Linked DNA regions of Homo sapiens. The protein of the gene in region 2 interacts with the protein of the main gene of each other region in a pairwise test. Each region holds a gene or a part of one and is shown on either strand. Other genes may lie near its edges.

Region 1 (8,124 bases), on a different chromosome or scaffold from region 2:
TATAAAGACATTTATTATGTTACTAAAAAGAAATCTAGGCGGCCAGTTCCAGGGCTGGTACAGCGGCTCAATGATGCCTTTTAGCTTTCTGCTTAGCCGTCATCAATGATTGGCTTTTTTCATTAGAATTATATATTAATGTTCGGCCGGGTGCGGTGGCTCACGCCTATAATCCCAGCACTTTGGGAGGCTGAGGCGGGCAGATCACGAGGTCAGGAGATCAAGACCATCCTGGCTAACACAGTGAAACCCCATCTCTACTAAAAATACAAAAAAATTAGCCGGGCATGGTGGCAGGCGCCTGTAGTCCCAGCTATTCGGGAGGCTGAGGCAGGAAAACGGCGTGAACCCGGGAGGCAGAGCTTCAATGTTCAGAAGAGCTATCTTAGCTCTAAATATCATGTCCTTACACAGCTACATCAATGGCAGAAAAATGGCAGTTTTTTCTCATTTATTCCTTTTCATCAAGGAAGAAAATATGTCTCTCTATCTCTCTTCTTCTCTTAGAATAAAAAAAGCCTCTAGCACATTTCCTTCATCTCCCACTGGCTCAGATGGACTCATGTGCCTATAACTTAGCTGAAGGGAGGCTGGAAACACATCTGTCATTTCTAGTATATATGGTGGAAGTATGTGTGTGTGTTATGTGTGCATTGCTGGATATGCAACCACTAGTGTCTGTCACTAAGAATAAGATGAAATTGACTGGGCGCAGTGGCTCACGCCTGTAATCTCAGCACTTTGGGAGGCCAAGGCAGGAGGATCACTTGAGGTCAGGAGTTTGAGACTAGCCTGGCCAACATGGTGAAACCCCGTCTCTACTGAAAATACAAAAATTAGCTGGACATGGTGGCACACTTCTGTAATCTCAGCTACTCAGGAGGCTGAGGCAGGAGAATCGCTTGAACCCAGGAAGTGGAGGTTGCAGTGAGCCGAGATCGGCCACTGCACTCCAGCCTGGACAGAGTAAGACTCTGTCTCCAAAAAGGAAAAAGAGAAATTTCAGCCAAGCACAGTGGCTCACGCCTGTAGTCCCAGCACTTTGGGAGAGCAAGATGGGCAGATCATCTAAGGTCGGGGGTTCGAGACTAGCCTGACCAACATGGAGAAACCCCATCTCTAGTAAAAATACACAATTAGCTGGGCGTGATGGCACATGCCTGTAATCTCAGCTACTCAGGAGGCTGAGGTGGGAGAATTGCTTGAACCCGACAGGCGGAGGTTGCGGTGAGCCGAGATCACGCCATTGCACTCCAGCCCGGGCAACAAGAGCAAAACTCTGTCTCAAAAAAAAAAAAAAAAAAAAAATTCAGTCCTCCTGCAAGAAGTTTTGTGTCTCTCAGGGCAGAAGATAAGCTATAATTTTATTACAATTTCTGTGTGATAGATTCCCTACATACTCCTGGGCTTCAATTTAGATATGACCTTTAAATAGATAATGAAAGCTGCTTTAGGTACTTTGAATTTGGAGCTGTGAAGACTGTCCTCTCCCATTGTTCCTAATTTTTAGTTACAAGATCTGTTCTCAGCATCTTTTTCATAAGTAATGGTTTAGGAAAGAAGTATCAAATTACATGACATATTTTTGGGTAATGTTCTCTTTCTCCAAAATGCTCTTAACCTTCCTTCTCTGCATGCCCAAATCCCATTCATCCTTTGAAGACAGTGAAAAATAATTCCTCTTTTATTTGATTTTGTCAGCAAACATCTGCTGCATGCTTACTATGTAGCAAGCACTCTTCAAGCACTGGGGATACAAGATGAGATCTGACCTCGTGGAGGTTACAGTCAAGTAGGGAACACTGACAATGAACAGCAATTAAGAATAGGATACAATAGGACAGGCAAAGGTACTTATACTGTTAGTGGGGATGGGAGCAGATGGGAGCAAGACTTGTGTGGTAGACTGAATGTTTGTGTCTCCCCAAAATTCATATGTTGAAACTATAGTCCCCAATGTGATGGTATTAGTAGGTGGGACCCTAGGGAGGTGATTAGGTCATGAGGGTGGAGTGCTCATAAATGGGATTAGTTCCCTTGTAAGAGGGAGCCCAGAGAGCTTTCTTGCTCTCTTTCTGCCATGTGAGGGCACAGTGAGAAGATGGTTGTCTATGAACCAGGAAGTGGGCCTTCACCAGACACAGTATCTTCTGGTACCTTGCTCTTGGACTTTCCAGTCTCCAGCTGTGAGAAATAAACATTTGTTGTTTAAGCCACCCAGTCATGGTATTCTGTTATAGCAGCCTGAATGGACAAAGACAACTTCTTTAAGTGGTAAGTGATTTAAAAGAAAAAAAAAAAAAGACAATTTCTTTAACTGAAGGATGAGTAGGAATTGGGGAAGAGTGGGGAAGGGAGGGGAAGAGTGTTTGCAGTAAAGAGAAGTGAGCGTAGGAAATCATGAAGGTGAAAATGTTGGTGAAAATACTCTTGAAAAGGGCCTCTCTAATTCCTCTTTCTCCTGAGTAATTTTTCCATTTGCTATACCCTACAGCACTTAATATGCAATGTTTAGGCCATAAAGTCTCTGAAGACAAAACTTACACAGAGTACTTGGTAATATGAAGGCAGCTTCAGAGGATAATGAGGCTGTGTATGTGTCAATGCAAAATGAAAGCTTAAAACATTAAAACATTTTAGGTAAGAGGTGGACTAGACCATAAGGCCCTTCAAAATGACAGGGAACAGTACCACCTGTCTAGGTGACTACAGAGACCAAAGCAGCAGGGAGGACTGATTCATAAAGTTCTGTAGGAAGTACAAAGTAATTATAGTTCCAATCCTCAGATGTTACTTTAAAGTCTATTTCAGGAAGCATAATGAAAACTTGGTACCCATCAGAAAGAAAATAGCTACTCACTTTTGTTTGCATAATCTTTTTAAAAAGTTTCTTGGTTTAAGCTGCTCTTTGTATGTGCCAGGGTTCTGGGTTAATGGTGGAGAGGACCCTATTAGATCTGACAAACTACTTGTAAAATCAAATGTCCATGCTACAAGCCAGGTTTTTACCATTTTATTTTAGATGCATGTTCTACCTGCACATGGCTGGGAGAGGAACCAGAAGGGAGTAAATTTTGATAGAGATGGTTTGAGGATATAGCTGTTGTCTTGATAGGCCAGAATAGATGATATTTTAAGAACTTTGGTTCTTCCCTGTAATTTATTCTAGGTCAGCAATTCATCCCTGGGCCTGAGAAGGCACTTTTTCAATCCTGTCATTTCTACAGCTAAGCAAATAACTCCCCAATAATGAGAAAAAGTACATAAATGTTTTGTGAATGATATACACAAATGATATACATTTGTGTATAGACACAAATGTAAGGACATATTTTTTATTATTCACTTAGAAAGTTTTTTTGTTTTTTTTTTTTTTTTTTAAGACAGGGACTTGTTCTGTCACCCAGATTTCAGTGTAGTGGTGCCATACCTCAGCCTCCAACTCCTGGACTCAAGCAATCCTTCTGCTTCAGGCTCCTGAGTAGCCGGAACTACAGGAGCACACCACGATATTCGGCTATTTTATTTTTTGTAGAGATAGTGTCTTGCTTTGTTGCCCAGCCTGGTCTCGAACTCCTGGGCTCAAGCGATTCTACCGCCTCGGCCTCCCAAAGTGCTGGGATTACAGACGTGAGCCACCGCGCCCAGCTGCTTTATGGATTTTTTTTTTTGGAGACAGAGTCTCGCTCTTGTTGCCCAGACTGGAGTGCAATGGTGTGACCTTGGCTCACTGCAACCTCCGCCTCCCGTGTTCAAGCGATTCTCCTGCCTCAGCCTCCCAAGTAGCTGGGATTACAGGCACCCGCCACCACACCACGTTAATTTTTTGTATTTTTAGTAGAGATGGGGTTTCATCATGTTGGCCAAGGCTGGTCTGGAACTCCTGACGTCAGGTGATCCACCCAACTCAGCCTTCCAAAGTGCTGGGATTACAGGGATGAGCCACCACGCCCGGCTTTTTTTTTTTTTTTTTTTTTTTTTTTCTGTTGAGATGGAGTCTCGCTCTGTCGCCAGGCTGGAGTGCAGTGGTGTGATCTCGGCTCACTGCAACCTCCGCCTCCCGGGTTCAAGCGATTCTCCTGCCTCAGCTTCCCGAGTAGCTGGGACTACAGGCGCGCGCCACCACCCCCAGCTAATTTTTGCATTTTTAGTAGAGACAGGGTTTCACCATGTTGGCCAGGATGGTCTCGATCTCTTGACCTCGTGATCCACTCGCCTCCGCCTCCCAAAGTGCTGGGATTACAGCCGTGGGCCACCGCGCCCAGCCCGCTTTATGGATTTTGCAAGTCATTTACTCCCTCTAAGCTTCAGTTTCCTCATCTGCAAAATTGGGAGGCCATGATTCTGGCAGTTATAACATTCCTGGGAGCAATGGAGGAGAATGTTATTTAGTAAGATGCCTGTGAGGAATTATGATGAGAGGATGGAGAAGGTGGGGTGTGTGCAATGGTGAAGAAGGGATCTGAGGACTGTGAGGCACGGCTGAGGGCTCAGGAAAGAGGCTCCCATTACAAATTTTAAGGCTATAGGACCCCACCCACACTTTTTGGGGGATCATATTCCACCTTTGTCCCGGCCCCGCCTCCGCCCCACCCTTCTCCCCCTCCCCTTTCTTTCCTTCCCCTCCCCTCAGGCTGAGAGGCGCCACACTTCTTATGGCCGCCACAGTGCTCCGCTTTCCACAGCTCGAGGGCTGCGCGCGCTCTCACGCTGCCACCTCACTCGCGTGTGGGCTCGCCCTCAGCCCCTTCCGATTGGCTCATTATGTAAGTGACGTAAGGGCTCCAGCCTCCCACTAACTTATCCCTGGCTTGCCCCGCCTCCTCCTGGCTTCTTTTGACGCCAGTGGAAACCTAACCTGCCCCGTCGCCGCCGTGCGGGAGGAGCCGGTAGAGCTGTCCAAACCAGGAAGGCGATGGCGATGGCGGTGGCGCGCACGCATGCACGCACGCACGCACGCCAGCGGCCGGCGGGGCCGCAGGCTCGCGCCCGGGCTCGCCCCGCGCCGCTCCAGAGGCTCGCGCACTCAGCAGGTTGGGCTGCGGCGGCGGCGGCAGCTGTGGAAGCTCAGGCGCTGCGCGTGAGAGGTCCCAGATACGTCTGCGGTTCCGGCTCCGCCACCCTCAGCTTCTCTTCCCCAGGTCTGGGAGCCGAGTGCGGAAGGAGGGAACGGCCCTAGCTTTGGGAAGCCAGAGGACACCCCTGGCTCCTGCCGACACCGCCCTCCTTCCCTTCCCAGCCGCGGGCCTCGCTCGGTGCTAGGCTACTCTGCCGGGAGGCGGCGGCGGCTGCCAGTCTGTGGAGAGTCCTGCTGCCCTCCAGCCGGGCTCCTCCACCGGGCCTTGCAGGGGCCGAGAGAGCTCGGTGCCCGCCCTTCCGCTCGCCTTTTTCGTCAGCTGGCTGGAGCAGCATCGGTCCGGGAGGTCTCTAGGCTGAGGCGGCGGCCGCTCCTCTAGTTCCACAATGTCCACGGGCGGAGACTTCGGGAATCCGCTGAGGAAATTCAAGCTGGTGTTCCTGGGGGAGCAAAGCGGTGAGTGCGTGGCTCCCCTACTCCTGGCAGCTGGCCGCAGCGTCCCCGCACCGCCCCCGGTGCGGCCCTTCCGTCCGCGGAGGCTCCCTGCCCGCCTCGCGTCCGCGCTCGTTGCCACCGCAGCCCTTCCCGATGTGCCCCCCGGTGCCACTGGCTCTTCGCCAGTGGCCGAGTTTTTACCCTGTTCCCCGGGTTCTTCAATCCTCGACTCCCCGGCTCCGTTCCCCGCAGTCCGGCCATCTCCGGTCGATCTGCCCTCCCTCCCCAGACCTCACCCCGCCCAGCCTCTTGTCCATCCCTTTCTTCCTCCGGTCTCGGTCATTGCCCGTACCCCGGCCCCCTTTCTTGAGCCCCACCCTTATTCCTTGCTCTTTTCCCAGTTCCTCAGCTCTGTGAGGCCCACTCAGGGAAGCCCCACTCCCGAGAGCGGGCCCTCTTCAACCTTGGCCAAGGAGGGTGGGATCTGGGCGTTGTTTTCCCCAGAGGCTTGGCCCTGCGAAGTGCTGATGTCGTGGAAGGTGGGAAGGGGTGGTAGTAGAAAAAATTAAATGATTTTCACCTGGGTGGGAAATTAGTCTGGGCCATAGAGGAAACATCTGAATTGGAGACGACTTGAGCATGGGGTGGTTGGGGGTGAAAGGGGTAGCGTCGGCAGTGGAGATTTTTGCCCCTTAGGTTAGATGGGGCTGTGGCTTGTCGGAAAACCTCATTTTGTTCTCTTGACTTTCATCACTGACAATTCTTTTGGCAATGTTGATGATTTTTCAATCTCTGCCAGATGCTATGTCATGATCATTTTACTTGGAATTTTTCTCATCTCACCTCCCCTTTTTCTCTTTTCAACATGAAGCAGCGTCTGAGTCTCATGGTGGTACAAAAGGGAATTACTGGGGAAATGTTAATTATTCATTCCTTCTTGAGTATTTTCCAATGATATATTGAGGATTCATGTGAGAGAAGGCTTGGAATAACAAACATCTTTGTTTTGTCGGATTTCCTTTGGAAAATGGAGTAGAGTAGGAACAGACTCATCATCTAGTTACCTAAATTAGATTTAAATACCATTTGGGCTAAATAATTCTTTTATGCTTAATATTCTGTACTGTCTGATGAGTGAAATTGTTATGTCATTTACCTGGTCAGGTTCTGCTGTCACTGTACTTTTGTATTAGATACTAGATCCTAATTTTGTGATGGTTGTATCTACGATTACTTCTTGTAGTAATTCCAGTTTTATGCTGTATTATACAAACTTGACACTCGACAATTCAGAGATGATTACCCTCCTTTGTTTTTCTCATACTTTGCATGCCCATCTTTAAAATTCAGACATTGAGAGATTAGTTCTGAGTCATCAAACATTGAGTACCTACTAGGTGTTTTAGGTGAGGTTATAGAAAACATTAGTTATTTGTTTTGACTGGAAGGCATGTAAGTGATATAAATTCGTAGCTTTTATTACTACTTTGAACTATTTATACTAATTTGTATGCCATCACAGAGGTTAATACTCTTGCAAAATTGCCTCCAGTTAGAACTGGGAAATCATTTTTCTCCTTTCATGTGTAGATTATCTTCCCCTCCTCCCTTTTGGGGGGAAAAATACAATCTCCCTCCTTTTTGCTTATATATTTTCCTGAAGTAAGTATAAACTTGTGTCTTTAGGTGAGTAACTTGGTAGAACCTATGGAGTTGCTTCTAGTCCAGCTTTTCTGTGTCAATATCAGGATAGTTCCCAAACATAAAATATAGTTTATTGGTTATTATTGATAAAAAGGATCCAAAGTGCTTATTGTGCATTCTAAGGATATTATTGCCTTCCTTATGTTGTGATGCACAGCTATTTAGTTTGCATGAAAAAACCTATTCATCTTCCTGCCTAAAAAGGTTTTAGCATGAATGGAGTGCTTAACTTCCTAAGTATCTTCAGGTTTCCTTTGAATTTCTTGAGTATTTGTGTATGTTCTAATGCATAATGGAGAGTTTTATGGCTTCTAATTTCGTACCTTGTTTAAGCCTCTACTACCCTCCCCCCTCCATTACTGAAGCCTGGTTAGATTTTTTTTAATAGACTTCATTTTTTAGAACAGTTTTAGACTTACAGAAAAATTGAAAAGATAGTGTAGAGTTCCCATATACCCACACATCTAGTTTCCCCTGTTATCAACATCTTGCATTAGTATGGCACATTTGTTAACAATTAATGAACTAATATTGATATGTTATTATTAACTTAAGTCCATAGTTTATTTAGATTTTTAGTTTTAACCTAATGTCCTTTTTCTGTTTCAGCATTCAATTCAGGATGTGAAGTTAATTATCTTTTGAGGTTACTATATTGTCAAGTAATGCCATTCATTAGCTTTGACAATGAAAGATTGATCTCTGTTTTCATGGTCAGTGTCTATAGTTTTCTTATGCGTTAGAAGTCTGTAGACTCCATGTCCTTTTGATGTAACTCTTCATGAATTATTTATTTTTAGGTCTGTTAGAATTCCACAATTCAGCTTTCAAAGACTGTAATCTATGGCAAAGCCTTGTTTCTTCTTAATAGCATTTACCACATTTACAATTATCTTATTTTTTATGTG
Region 2 (7,852 bases):
AAAGGCAGTGTGGACCCAAAGAGCGAAAGAACAAACCTTCCACGTTGCGGAAGGGGACCCCAGAGGGTTGCTACTGCTGGCTCCTGGCAGCCTGCTTTTATTCTCTTATCTGGCCCCCCACCCCCACCCCCGCCACCCCCCGCCCCCACCGCCCCCCCCACCCCCGCCACCACCCCCGCCCCCACCCCCACCCCCCCACCGCCTCCCCCACCCCCCCACCGCCTCCCCCACCCCCCCACCCACATCCTGCTGATTGGTCCATTTTACAGAGAGCCAATTGGTCTGTTTTACAGAGAGCTGATTGGTCCGTTTTGACAGGGTGCTGATTGGTGCCTTTACAATCCCTGAGCTAGACACAAAAGTTCTCCACGTCCCAACTAGATTAGCTAGTTACAGAGTGTGGACACAAAGGTTCTCCAAGTCCCCACCAGAGTAGCTAGACACAGAGTGTCGACTGGTGCATTCACAAACCCTGAGCTAGACAGGCTGCTGATTGGTGTGTTTACAAACCTTGAGCTAGATACAGAGTGCCGATTGGTGTATTTACAATCCCTTAGCTAGACATAAAGGTTCTCCAAGTCCCCACCAGACTCAGGAGCCCAGTTGGCTTCACCCAGTGCATCTTGTACCGGGGCTGCAGGTGGAGCTGCCTGCCAGTCCCGCGCCGTGCGCCCGTACTCCTCAACCCTTGGGTGGTCGATGGGACTGGGCGCCATGGAGCAGGGGGCGGCGCTCGCCGGGGAGGCTCTGTCTGCGCAGGAGCCCACGGCAGAGGGTAGGCTCAGGCATGGCGGGCTGCAGGTCCGATCCCTGCCCAGCGGGGAGGCAGCTAAGGCCCTGTGAGAAATCGAGCGCAGCGCCGGTGGGCCGGCACTGCTGGGGGACCCGGCGCACCCTCCACAGCTGCTGGCCCGGCTGCTAAGCCCTTCACTGCTCGGGCCGGCACGGCCTGCCGCTCTGAGTGCGGGGCCCGCCAAGCCCACGCCCACCCAGAACTCTAGCTGGCCCGCAAGCGCCGCTTGCAGCCCCGGTTCCCGCCCGTGCCTCTCCCTCCACACCTCCCCGCAAGCCGAGGGAGCCGGCGCCGGCCTCGGCCAGCCCAGAGAAGGGCTCCCACAGTGCAGCGGCGGGCTGAAGGGCTCCTCAAGCACGGCCAGAATGGGCGCCGAGGCTGAGGAGGCACCAAGAGTGAGCGAGGGCTGCTAGTACGCTGTCACCTCTCATCACCTTTCATAGTTCTATCACGTGGGGTTTATATCCTCATTACATATAAAGAAACTGAAGCCCAGTGAGGAAAGGTGACCTGTCCAAGTCCTTGTAGTTAGCCAGGACCAAACTGCAGTTCTCCTGATTCCAACTCCAATGATCTCTCCAGGACACCATAGCTACCCAGTCAGAAAAACAAGAATTGTGCCTGGGGATCTGGTGCGGTGGGTCAGGCCTGTAATCCCAACACTTTGGTCACGCCTGTAATCCCAACACTTTGGGAGGCTGAGTCGTGAGGACCATTTGAGGCCAGGAGTTTGAGAGCAGCCTGGACAAAATAGTGAGACCCTATTCTACACACACACGTGCACACGCACACAAACACAATGCAGATTTTCATGGCTTCGTAGCATTTCATCTTCTAGATGGGTCTTAGTTCATTTAAACAATTCCATATATTTTTCCTTTTTTCTATTTTCTTTTCTTTCTTTTTTTTTTGAGACGGAGTCTGCTCTGTTGCCCAGGCTGGAGTGCAGTGGCGTGATCTCGGTTCACTGCAAGCTCCGCCTCCCAGGTTCACACCATTCTCCTGCCTCAGCCTCCCAAGTAACTGGGACTATAGGCACCCGCCACCACGCCCAGCTAATTTTTTGTATTGTTAGTAGAGATGGGGTTTCACCGTGTTAGCCAGGATGGTCTCGATCTCCTGACCTCGTGATCCGCCCACCTCAGCCTTCCAAAGTGCTGGATTACAGGTGTGAACCACCGCGCTTGGCCTTTTTTTTTTTTTTTCCGAGTCAGAGTCTCGCTCTATGGCCCAGGCTGGAGTGCAGTGGTGTGATCTCGGCTCACTGCAAGCTCCGCCTCCCGGGTTCAAGGGATTCTCCTGCCTCAGCCTCCCGAGTCGCTGGGACTACAGGTGCCGCCACTACGCCTGGCTAATTTTTTGTATTTTTAGTAGAGACGGGGTTTCACCACGTTAGCCAGGATGGTCTCGATCTCTTGACCTTGTGGTCTGCCTGCCTTGGCCTCCCAAAGTGCTGGGATTACAGGCGTGAGCTACCGCGCTCAGCCTCTTTTCCTATTTTCTAAAAGTTGAATTGCTGACTCATATGATCTGCATCTTTTTTTTTTTTTTTCTTGAGACAGGGTCTCACTACTGTTACCCAGGCTGGAGTGCAGTGGGAAGATCTGGTTCGTTGCAGCCTCAGCTTCCTGGTGATTCTCCTACTTTAGCCTCCTGAGGGACCACAGGTGCCTGCCACCATGCCTGGCTAATGTTTTGTATTTTTAGTAGAGACAGCATTTTGCCATGTTGCCCAGGCTGATCTTGACCTCCTGGGTTCAAACAATCCACCCACCTTGGCCTCCCAAAGTGCTGGAATTACAGGTGTGAGCCACCGCATCCAGCTCTACAGTTATTTTTTATTTATTTAGTTAGTTAGTTAGTTAGTTAGTTTGTTTGTTTGAGGTGTAGTCTCCCTCTGTCTCCCAGGCTGGAGCGCAGTGGCATCATCTCGGCTCACTGCAACCACCGCCTTCCAGGTTCAAGTGATTCTTCCGCCTCAGCCTCCCAAGTAGCTGGGATTACAGGCTCCTGCCACCATGCCCGGCTAATTTTTGTATTTTTAGTAGAGACGGACTTTCCCCATGTTGGCCAGGCTGGTCTCAAACTCATGACCTCAGGTGATCTGCCCATCCCGGCCTCCCAAAGTGTTGGGATTACAGGCGTGAGCCACCGCGCCCAGCCTGTTACTTATTTTCATGTGAAAAGCAAACCTACAAAGCAGGTGGTGTTCATCCCATTTTATAGGTGAAGACACAAAGCCTCTGAGAGGTGAAGTGACTTGTCCAAGGTCCCATAGTGGTGGAGCTGGGAAGGCAACCTGGAAGTGACTCCAAAGTCAACGCAATGGTTAAATAATTGTGAATCGAATCTGGGAAGGTTGGCTGGGAACGGTGGCTCATGCCTGTATTCCCAGCACTTTGGGAGGCTGAGGCAGGCAGATCACCTGAGGCCAGGAGTTCGAGACCAGCCTGGCTAACATGGTGAAAATACAAAATTACTACTAAAAATAAAAAATTAGCCGAGCGTGGTAGTGGGTACAAAATAATCCCAGCTACTCGGGAGGCAGAGGTTGTGGTGAGCTGAAATCGTGCCATTGCACTCCAGCCTGGGCAACAAGAGCAAAACTCCGTCTCAGAAAAAAAAAAAAAATTAGCCGGGCGTGGTGGCGCACTTCTGTAGTTTCAGCTACTCAGGAGGCTGAGGCAGGAGAATCACTTGAACCTGGGAGGCGGAGGTTGCAGTGAGCCGAGATCATGCCACTGCACTCCAACCTGAGTAACAGAGTGAGACCCAGTCTCAAAAAATAAATAAATAAATAAATAAATCGCCCTGTGTCAAAAATAAAATAAAATAAACATAAAAGTAAGTAAAAATACAAAAATTAGGTGGGCATGGTGGCACACGCCTGCAGTCCCAGCTACTCGGGAGGCTGAGGCATGAGAACCGCTTGAACCTGGGAGGTGGAGGTTGCAGTGGGCAGAGATCCCGCCACTGCACTCCAGCCTGGGCAGAGCGAGACTCTGTCTCAAAAAAAAAAAAAAAAAAGAAGAATCTGGGAAGGTCTCCAAGCAGGTAGACCCTGAGAGCTGGGTCTTATGTGTGGACAGAAGGAATAAGGCTCGGGGAAGGCAATTTGGCAAAGTCCAAAGCCTGAACAAAGGCCTTCAGGAGATTTCTTTTCTTTTCTTTTCTTTCCTTTTTTTTTTTTTTTTTTTTTTTTGAGGCTGGAGTGCAATGGCGCGATCTCGGCTCACCGCAACCTCTGGCTTCTTTGGAATCAAGCGATTCTCCTGCCTCAGCCTCCTGAGTAGCTGAGATTACAGGCATGCGCCACCACGCCTGGCTAATTTTGTATTTTTAGTAGAGACGAGGTTTCTCCATGTTGGTCAGGCTGGTCTCGAACTCCCGACCTCCGGTGATCCGCCCGCCTCGACGTCCCAAACTGCTGGGATTACAGGCGTGAACCACCGCGCCCGGCTCAGGAGATTTCCTACAGCTCAAAATTTGTAAGGCAAAGAGATGGCCACAAACCTTGTGAGAGTGGATGGGGAGCGACCTCGGCTCTCTTAGTCCCGCCTGGCCCACTAGACACTGCACTGCATGGTAGAGGCCCCGCCCGACCCAGCCCCTTAATCGGCCTGTTGCAATCACTATCAACCCGCCAATTCTGGCCCCGCCCCTGTCTTCCGGGTTCACCCTCTCACTTCCTGCGGGTCCCAGGCTCAGGCCCCTCCTCCGCCTTGTTTGGAGCAATCCAATCGAACCTGGAGGGCTCCGCTCCGCCCTATGCCGCGCTCCCCTCCTCCACGAGCAATGAGAATCAGCTCAGGCCCCGCCCCCGCTTCCGCCCGCCTAGACCACGCCCCTTCTTCATTTGGCCAATCAGGCAGTCCACTGGCCCCCGCCCCCTAATGCCCCGCCCCGTCAGCACTTATCCCTGAGCTGCTTCTGCCGTTGCATCTTCGGGACTCCGCCCCGCGCGCGGACCTGCAGCCATGGCAGTCACCGCCCAGGCAGCCCGCAGGAAGGAGCGCGTCCTCTGCCTGTTTGACGTGGACGGGACCCTCACGCCGGCTCGCCAGGTAGGACCCTGAAGATTGGAAGCTCCCACCGGGAGTGTCACGCGGACACCCCCGAGGCTGAGTGTGGGGTCTGCAGCAGCGTGACCGTGGACACCCGGGGACCGAGTGTGGGATGCGGCGGTACCCGGCCCCCTGACATCCGGGGCCACCCACCGGGAGTGAGGGGACCTGGCCCTCACGTCACTGACCCCGCAGCGTCCTTGCCTGTGTTCTGCTTGGGAGTGCTGGGGTTGGATCCAGTACTGGAGGGAGGAGGCTGCGAGCAGGGGCCTAGCTCCCTCCCTCCCCGGAGGCTGTCACACGCCGCTAAGGCCTGGCTCACGGACGCCCCCGCCTCCTGAGCTGGGGATCCCACCCTAGTTCAGCCCTACGACACACCAGTGGTCGGAGCTGGCTTCTGAACCGGGGTTCCAGGCACACAAGCACACAGCCAAGCGTCAGTCATCATCTGGTGGGAGACAGGGCGTCTCGGAGTCTTCCCACCCCGACCTTTGCAGGCCTGGGACTGGGTCTAGTTTCTGAAGCCCCATCACCCACTTTACCTTCCACCCCCAGTCGTGGAGCAGAGAGGGCTTCTTTTCAAATTCGTTTATGAGCTCTACCCACCCGGATGTGAGAGGCTCCAGGCCTAGCCTGTTTGCTGTGAGGACACTGAGGAATAGTGAGGGTAAGAGTCTAGTTTTCTTCTAAAGACTCTCGCTGTGTTGAGCCTCTTACCTCTGCTCAGTTTTTCTCCCATTGGGTCTCATTGTGAGTGAGTCCCCAAAAGCCCCCTCACCAGCTGGATGCATCAGTAAGCAGGCTTCATTCATGCCCTCCCTGTGGGTAACCCACCCTCCAGTCTGGGGGCCTCAAGGACCAACCAACAGGTCTCCTAGCGTGGGGGAGCAGTGGGATGGGCTTTACTGGGCAGTGGCTGATGGGAACCCAGGTCTTAGCCTCCTCTCTTAGGTCCCGAATGCCCCTCCCCATCCTCTGTGGTGAAGTTGCCCTGGCTTGGGCCCTGGAGGCCTTCCTGCAGGGGTGGATCCGGGAGGAAGATAGCAGGACTGGAGCAAAGGTGGGCCATTTGCTTGTGGGTCACGCCTGTAATCCCAGCACTTTGGGAGGCCATGGTGGGCAGATCACCTGAGGTCAGGAATTCTAGATCAGTCTGGCTAACATGGTGAAACCCCGTCTCTACTAAAAATACAAAAATTAGGCTGGGTTCAGTGGCTCACGCCTGTAATCCCAGCACTTTGGGAGGCCGAGGCAGACAGATCACGATGTCAGGAGTTTAAGACCAGCCTGACCAATATCGTGAAACCCTATCTCTACTAAAAATACAAAAAATTAGCCAGGCGTGGTGGCATGCACCTGTAATCCTAGCTAGTCGGGAGGCTGAGGCAGGAGAATCACTTGAACCCGAGAGGCAGAAGTTGCAGTGAGCCGAGAATGTGCCATTGCACTACAGCCTGGGCGACAGAGGGAGACTCAGTCTCAAAACAAAACAAAACAAAAAGTAGATGGGCGTGGTGTCGTGTGCCTGTAGTCCCAGCTACTGGGGAGGCAGAGGCAGGAGAATCGATTGAACCCAGGAGGTGGAGGTTGCAGTGAGCCAAGATTGTGCCATTGCACTCCAGCCTGGGCAACAAGAGTGAAACTCCGTCTCAAACAAACAAATAAATGAATAAAAGAACTGGAACAAAAGTGGCAGGGCCTAGGCACAGTTCTGACTCCTCCCTCTGACCTTTTGCTCCACAAACATAACAACCTGAATAAGAACAGCCTATTAATTTGTCTACGGGCCAGCCTCTGTGCTTAGTGCCTTTTGAAAGTTAATTTTTAATCGTACACATTTTCATGAGCACACTCTCCTGGTAAAGAATGGAAACGTAACAGAGAAGGGTAAAGTCCACTCTGACCGCACTTGGGGAGCCTGGCCGGCTCCCCAAGTTAATGTGGTTACTGTGGTGTGGCTTCCCTCCAGGCCTTTATCTGGATCTATTTGCCCAGAGCAAATATTAAGCATTGTTTTGTGAGGCTATTTTTGTTATTGTTCTTTGGCTCCTCAAAAATCAACTTGATTGTGATGCTATTTTGTTGTTGTTGTTGTTAGAGACCGGGGTCTCACTCTGTCACTCAGTCTGGAGTGCAGTGGCGCTATCACAGCTCACTGCAGCCTCGAACTCCTGGGCTCAAGTGATTCTCCCGCCTCAGCTTCTGGAGTAGCTGGTAGCTGGGACTACAGGCAAGTGCCACCATGCCTGGCTAATATCTTTTTTTTTTTTTTTTTTTGGAGATGAAATCTCATTCTTGTCCCCCAGGCTGGAGTGCGATGGCATGATCTCGGTTCACTGCAACCTCCACCTCCCGGGTTCAAGGGATTCTCCTGCCTCAGCCTCCTGAGTAGCTGGGATTACAGGCGCTTGCCACCACGCCCAGCTAATTTTTTTTTCTTTTTTTTTTTGAGACGGAGTCTCGCTCTGTCGCCCAGGCTGGAGTGCAGTGGCGTGATCTCAGCTCACTGCAAGCTCTGCCTCCCAAGTTCACGCCATTCTCCTGCCTCAGCCCTCCCGAGTAGCTGGGACTACAGGCGCGTGCCACCACGCCCGGCTAATTTTTTTGTATTTTTTAGTAGAGACAGGGTTTCACCATGTTAGCCAGGATGGTCTCAATCCCCTGACCTTGTGATCCACCCGCCTCGGCCTCCCAAAGTGCTGGGATTACAGGCGTGAGCCACCGCGCATGGCCAATTTTTTTTTTTTTTTTTTTTTAATTTTTAGTAGAAACAGAGTTTCACCATGTTGGCCAGGCTGGTCTCGAACTCCTGACATCAAGTGATCCACCCTCCTGGGCCTCCCAAAGTGCTGGGATTACTGGTGTGAACCACCGTGCCAGCCCATGCCTGGCTAATTTTTAAAAACTTTCGGCCAGGCACGGTGGCTCACGCCTATAATCCCAGCACTTTGGGAGGCCCAGGCGGATGGATCACCTGAAGTCAGGAGTTCAAGAC
Region 3 (7,023 bases), on a different chromosome or scaffold from region 2:
GTGAGGGCCAGCCCTCAGGTGGCTCTCTCCACTGCACAGGCTGCAGAGAATGCTGGCACAAATGACCAACAGATGCAAAACTGTGCAGGCAAGGTAGAAGAAGCGGCTGTGGAGGTGACTCCCCATCCCATAAGGCTTAGAGATGCACATACATGTCCCCTACCTAACTCAAAAGCTGTGTAAAACCTAAAAGAACCCACTAACAATGCAACAAATTGGAAACAGGCTTTTCAGGGCCTTGGGACTCCCTGACAGAAGGCACCAGGGTGGCCAGCAGCCCATCTCACTGATAGCAGTGACTCTCTAATGACCATGTTCCAAGGGCTCACAACCCTGCTCCTTACCAACTACTCAGCATTCCTACCAGTCACAAGCCCCAACTATAAGCCTGGCTGGACAGAAGCAACCCTTACTCCCTCTTGGGGAGGCTCCCCAGTTGTTGGCTTCCCCAATTCAAGGTCATCTTACTTCACAATGACACGCTAGTGAAAAATATTGGACTGGAAATGAGAGGTGGGGCTCCAGCCCAGAAGCATTAGCAACTCACAATGGGACTCTGGGACTCCAGGCAAGGCCTCCCTGTTCCCTGGGGCTCAGACTTCCCATTTGAACATATGGGAGAGGTGGTGGGTTCATTTCTTAGGCTTCAGCTCTCATTTCTGTGATTTTGGGAGCAAAGGGGGTCTGTGGAGCCCAGCAGGGGCCTCCGTTCATCAGGGATTCTGAAGGAGCCCAGATGTTCCCTCAAACTCACCAGAGACACTTTCTTCACCAAACTCCTAGTCCTTTCTGAAGCTTGTGCAGACTTAGAACAAATGTTTGCTGAGAACCTACCAGGGGCCAGGCACTTTGAGAGGCACTAAAGAAACATGAAGAAGTAAGAGAATTGTCTTCAAGCAACCATTTTTCAGAGACAGAAAGTGAGTCACAGAGAGGCCTCAAATTTTACTAAAGACAACACAGCTAAGAATTCAACCCCCAGGCTGCCTGATCCCTGCAGGTTATCTCCCAGGGCTCCAGGCCGGGTGAGACTAGCACTGGGATGTGAATACCACCAAAATCCCTTCCAGACACAGGGTATGGTCAGCTCTATGAAACTGGGATCTATTAAAAACAGGCAATCAGAATCCAGGGCAAACGCTGGCTGGCTGAGTGGATCTTCTTCTGAAATGCCCAGCCTGTCCCCCAAACCCATCTCCATACTGGGCCTGGACACTACCTTCTAACGTCCTTCTCTGAACCATCCATCTTAGGCAATGAGTATCAGCAGACAAGAGCCAGCCACGTGACCTCCATAACCCTCATGTACACACAGCACAGTAGCACTGTTCCTGGGCCCACCCAGTCCTCCCACAGCTGCCTTTCTTTTGGGCCCCCTTGTCAGAGAGGCACCAACCCAGGTGAACAGGACTGGTCTGCAGAGGCAGAGCTGGGGTCCTGTCCCGCAAGGACAGCCTTCTCCCAGAGCAGAGCTGACCAGAGCTCAGTTTGTCTCCCTGCAGCCCCATGCGAGAGGCCTCTGGAGGGATGCTCTGAAAGCCACTCCTTCCTACAGGTGGCAGAGGGGTCCCTGCCCTTCAATCTGGGCTTCCCGCCTCTAGGGACTAACCTGGTTTTCAGAGATGTTTTCCTGGGGAGGGAGCCGGGCAGCGGAGAAGCAGTCTCCCCCTCCCCCAGCTCTGGCCGACTGCCAGGGTGACCTCCCCTCCCCCAAGAAGGGCGGTGAGCTGGGAGGTGGGGGTGGGAAGAATCCACCGATGCTCTCTGGAGGAGTGCTGGGAAGCTAGGCAGGGCGTGTCGCCTGGGCCTTTCTCTGCCCAGAGCCAGACTTCACAGCCTCTCGGTGTGAGGTGCCCCTGTATCATTCCCCAAATCGCCTCGAGTTGGGGTAGCCCTCACTGCAATTGCCCAGATCCCTGGGCAGCAAGGAGACTAACAAGCGCCGGCGAAGGGCAGCGGGTCTAGAACCTTCTGTGCCCAGTCGGACGTGAGCCAGGGGAGGTAGGCTCCCCGTTCCCCCATGGCCTGCACTCGCTCTTTCGAGCAGAGACAGGTGTCGCTCTTTTCTCCCCGGTGGCTGTTTGTCCCACGCCCTGGACGTGCCCTTTCGCATGGTTCCCAGCAGGGTCCGCAGGGAACACCCCTCCAGTGCAGCGGAGTGAGGCCCGGCCAGACCCCAGCTTCGCTTCGTTCTCCAAGGGGGGCGCCCGTCGCTCTCCCCACCCCCGCCAGCACCCAGCCACCTGCGCGGTCGCCCGCAGCCGGTGCCGCAGTGTGAGCTAGCCAGCGAGCCCGGTTCCTTCACGCCCTGGCCAGCGCCGCGGAGCCAGCCGCCGCCCTCCGGGCCCCCTGCAGCGCCGCACCTGCACCCACACCCCGGGCCCCCCACCCAGAGCCCACCCTCACCTCCACCCCAGGCTCCAGCGCCTCCTCCGTCCTCACCCTTGGCCCCTCCCCAGCCCGACCCCGCCCCGACCTCCCCATCCCTGTCCCTCTCCTCTACCCTGGCAAGGAGGGGCCTTTCCGAGCCTGGGCCGGGGGTCCCAATGGGGTGGGCGATTGGGCGGCGGGGGTCGACTCGGCGACAAGCCAAGAGATTAAGCCGGGTACTTACCGCTCTGCTCCCCCAAGAACACCAACTTGAATTTTCTCAGTGGATTCCCAAAATCTCCCCCTGCGGACATGGTGCTGGCAGCCGGGGCCGGGAGAGGAGGAGGAGGAAAAAGCGAAGGAGCAGGGAGGGGAGAGTAGGAGGGCGAGGGGAGGCGGCCGGCGGTGCGGGAGCCGGAGGGGGAAGGGCTGGCTGCGCGCGTCCCTGACTCCCCAGCTGCGTCCCGGTCCCGGCCTGCGGCTGCGTGTCCGGCGGCGGAGGAGGAGGAGGAGAGAGAGGCGGAGGCGGAGGAAGGCTGGGGCTGGGCTGCTGCGGTCGGCACTGGCTGCGGTGCGAGGGGCGCGCTCTTTACGCCCGAGGCGCGGCGCTGGGAGAGAGGCGCGGGCGGAGCGGGGCGCAGGGACGGCGCGCGGGGCGGAGGAGCGCTCTCCAGAGCCGCGCCAGTCGGCCCCCTCCCGCCTGCCTCCTCCGCCGGCGCCTGCGCTCTGTGCGCTCCCCAGCCTCTGATGTCATGCGGGGCCCGCGGGGCTGCGGGGCTGGGGGGCGTGCGCCCGCCCACCCGAGCCCGCACCCGGGCAGGAGAGAACCTCCTCGCCGTACCCCTGAGAGCCCCCCGGGGGGGACCGTGTCTCGCTGCCCCGCTGCGTCTGTCTTCCCCACTCTACCCCTCTTTTGAATCCAGAAAATGACAGAAATTGTCAGGGGACATTTGTTTCTGGTCTTTTAAACCTAGATGCCAGTCCCTTCCTCCACCTCGCGAGACACCGATGCACAGCGCAGTCGTCCGACCGACAGGGCGGAAAGGAACGAAGGTGGGGGAGAGCCAGGGTGTGGCGAGGCCCGTCAGGGCGGTCAGACCTAGGGAAACCTGGCGTACTTGGCGCAGATGGGGCTCGACTCTTGCCCCCCGTGGCTTCTAGCCCGCCCTTCCCTCTCGAGGCCTAGACCCTTTATTTGGGCGGCCTCTTGTGGAGTCTGTGGGTGCCCCCGCAGACCTGGCCAGCGAGAGAGGAGCTGCCAATATCAGGCGCGCCTACCTCAAACCAGCTGCTCATTTGGATCATTTTATGCCAAATCCTAACCTGCCCCATGGGAGAGAAGGAACGGTGACGCTCTGAATGCCAGTGCCACTATCTCCAGGACAGTGCCCTGCGTTTCTTGATCCCGGGGTCGCCAGGCTGACAATGCCACTCCCCACCCTGGCAATTAGGTGTATCTGGACAATGAGCTATCTGAGGACATGTGGGCGACCTCTCCTTGGCCTCTACTTGCCTGGTCCATCGAGGCACACAGACCAAGTTGTGAGTGAGTGAGAGCAAAGAGCAGACGCCAAGTGCTAGAAACACTCCCAAGACAGCCCGAGCCTAAGGCATGCTGGTTAATTGAGGTTTTACAAAGCTGTCCCTTACTGTTCTGCCACAGCGTGGTCTTGTTCATTTATGGCTGTTCAGTGAGCATTTATTTGAGATAATAATCTGCATGTCGGTGAACACGATGGTGTGTGCACGCATGTGTTATAGAAAGAGAAAGAGGAGTGAGACACAACCTTCACCTCCAGATTTCTCGTGGACACTTGTTACCCCCTTTTTGACTTATGGGGCTTGCTTGGGCAAGCCTATCTGTCTCCCTGGTGTGCTCACCTCGAATCTCTTTCCTATTTCTTGTTAGAAACCTGACCACAAGTTCCATAAAAGCAGTAGTTGAAGCTCCACCACTGCATCCCAAGGACATAGCTCAGAGTTTAAGAAATAGTTGTTGAATGTTTGAATGAACATCTAGAACTCAAATCAAAATAACTGTCCTATTCTCATAATTACCTTTAGTTTGGAACCCCAGGGATTGTAAGTCATCACCTAGAATATCTGCCCCGTTGTGGCTGGCACCAGGCTCAGGGTAACCCTCCAGACACCCACCCACTTCTCTGGGGCTCCTGCTCTCTTAGGAGACCATATCCAGCTTGGGGTTGAAGAAAGCTCTGAAAGGAGAGGAGACTCCCAAGTCACAGCCCTTCCCGTCTCTATAAGTGATCCCTCCAAAGAAGGGCCAGTGAGCTACTGGCCAAGGTACCCAGCCATGCAACACTCCTCCAACCTGCACCTTCTCCTAACATCTAGTGCTGTCTCCCTGTACCCTCTCATCCTGACCTGATGAGATCATCGGTGGCAAGACAAAACAGCTGAGGTGTGCCAGAAAAGGCACCATCTTTTGGGTAAGCCTAGGCAGGTCCTGTACCTCCTCTGATCATCTGGTCCCGCACATGTAAGGTGGTATGGCAGTAGGGGAGGGAGGGCTGGGGCAGGGCCCCTCTGGGCACCTCTAAGCCTCCAAGTCATCCCATATGCTTACCAGGTCCAGCTGGGCTGACTATGGTCCAGCTTACTTTGGGGGACTCTGTCATAATTCTTCCAGTTCAAATGACAAAAACCCGGCTCCGACTACCGGGCTCACGTCGCTGGAGCAGATACTGGCATTGCTCTCAGAATGCAGTCATCATGCTGTGGAAATGAGAGCCTTAGAGACTCCAAGTTTGCTCTGCTCCAAGTCTCTCTCCTCCAACTATCATTGCTTATCTCCCCTGATTTTGAGTCTTGTCCTTAACCTGCCCTAAAGCAGACAGACTTTCTCCAGGTGGAAAATGGGGCCACTGAACCTCAGCCTGGCAACCTCACTAGAAAGAGTTTCTTCCATATCATAGAATCTGTGCATTCCATTTAAAAAAATTCTTTAAATCTTCCTATTTAGTATGTGCTGTGTATATGTAAGTTACAAAGAAAACCTATCACTCTGAGTGCCCATTTACCCTCTACACAGCTGGAGGGCTCAAATATTATAGTACTTTTCAGGCCCCCAGGTGCTTTCTTCTCCTTCCTCCCTCCCCAACTTGGAAATCCAGAATCTTAGCTTTTCTTTGAGTTTTATCACATTGGATGTGTCCTTCACAATACTTTGTTTTGTTTTGCATCTTTTGAATCTTATATAAGGTATCAAACTGTGTTTTCTGTCCTGACTTGCATGTTTCTTAACATCATGTTTCTGAGATCCATTTGTTAATTCATGTAGCAGCAGTTCTTTCATTTTCACTGCTGGTTAGTATTCTAGTTATGCCCCAATTTTTAAATGATTTTCTGTAAAATGTGTCATTTAAAATTTTTATTTTATTTTATTTTATTATTGTTGTTATTATTTTTGAGATGGAGTCTTGGTCTGTCACCAGGCTGGAGTGTAGCGGCGCCATCTCGGCTCACTGTAACCTCCGCCTCCCAGGTTCAAGCAATTCACCTGCCTCAGCCTCCCGAGTAGCTGGTACTACAGCCACGCACCACCAGGTCTAGCTAATTTTTTTATTTTTAGTAGAGCCGAGGTTTCACCATGTTGACCAGAATGGTCTCAATCTCTTAACCTCGTGATCCGCCTGCATCAGCCTCCCAAAGTGCTGGGATTACAGGTGTGAGCCACCACGCCTGGCCTTTTTTAAAATTATTTTAAATAATTTTATACTCACATAGAGGTTATAAAAAACAGTGCAGGGAGTTACTATGTATCCTGCACCAAGCTACCCCAGTGATAACATCTTACATAACCACATTGCTTAGTAAAACCAGGAAATTAACATTGGAAAATGCACTCAGTTTTGTTTCTGCTATTAACAAACAATGCTGCCATCAACATTCTTTACATGTCTCTTGATGCCTCTGTGAAGTTTTTCTAAGATATGTGTCAGTAGGTAAATTGTGGTATAAAAACAAGTGTACGTTTAATTTTGTGCCAAACTATTTTTCAAAGATATTCGTTAGATCATATAGCACTACAGCATCATCTATATTTTTCATTTTCTTCAAGATCTTGGTTTTCCTGAGCCCTTTGCTGTGTTATATATATATATATATATATTTAAATTAAATTTTTGAGATCATTGTAGATTCACAAACAGGAAAAAAAAAAAAGACAGATCTGTATATCCTTTATCTAGTTTTCACCAAGAGTAAGATCTTGCAGAACTTTATACTACAGTATCATAATGTGGATACTGGAATTAAGACAGTCAAGGTACATTTCTGTTCTGTACCTTGACACACAAAGAGCCCTCATGTTCCCCTTTTATAGCCACACCCACTTTCCTCCCACCCTCAACCCCTTCCTAACCTCTGGCAACCACTAATCTGTTCTTCATTTCAATAAATGTGTTATTTCAAGAATCTTATATAAGTGGCATTACACAGTATATCACCCTTTGGGATTGTTTTTTTCACTTCACCTGGCTGGAGCACTCAAATATTACAGTACTTTTGAGGCCCTCAGGTGTTTCTGCCCCTCCCTCTCTCCCCAGCTTGAAAATCCAGAACTGTGGCTTTTCTTTGAGTTTTTATCACATTTGGATGTGTCCTCCAACAATACTTTTTTGTTTTGCATCT

The links. Proteins that work in one complex are often made in the same cells at the same time.
Region 1: the proteins of PMM1 (region 2) and RAB6A interact in binary tests that used the Homo sapiens proteins (3 or more experiments, as listed by UniProt).
Region 3: the proteins of PMM1 (region 2) and RAB6B interact in binary tests that used the Homo sapiens proteins (3 or more experiments, as listed by UniProt).

Annotation. Positions count from the first base shown.
Region 1 is NC_000011.10:73,757,975-73,766,098, reverse strand, and holds the start of RAB6A (ras-related protein Rab-6A), read left to right. Parts: upstream 1-5,024; 5' UTR 5,025-5,463; coding exon 5,464-5,533; intron 5,534-6,003; exon of another isoform or gene 6,004-6,051; intron 6,052-8,124. UniProt on the Homo sapiens protein: The small GTPases Rab are key regulators of intracellular membrane trafficking, from the formation of transport vesicles to their fusion with membranes.
Region 2 is NC_000022.11:41,586,724-41,594,575, reverse strand, and holds the start of PMM1 (phosphomannomutase 1), read left to right. Parts: upstream 1-4,735; 5' UTR 4,736-4,770; coding exon 4,771-4,857; intron 4,858-5,412; coding exon of another isoform or gene 5,413-5,524; intron 5,525-5,808; coding exon of another isoform or gene 5,809-5,917; intron 5,918-7,852. UniProt on the Homo sapiens protein: Involved in the synthesis of the GDP-mannose and dolichol-phosphate-mannose required for a number of critical mannosyl transfer reactions. In addition, may be responsible for the degradation of glucose-1,6-bisphosphate in ischemic brain.
Region 3 is NC_000003.12:133,892,783-133,899,805, forward strand, and holds the start of RAB6B (ras-related protein Rab-6B), read right to left. Parts: upstream 3,101-7,023; 5' UTR 2,685-3,100; coding exon 2,615-2,684; intron 1-2,614. UniProt on the Homo sapiens protein: The small GTPases Rab are key regulators of intracellular membrane trafficking, from the formation of transport vesicles to their fusion with membranes. Rabs cycle between active GTP-bound and inactive GDP-bound states.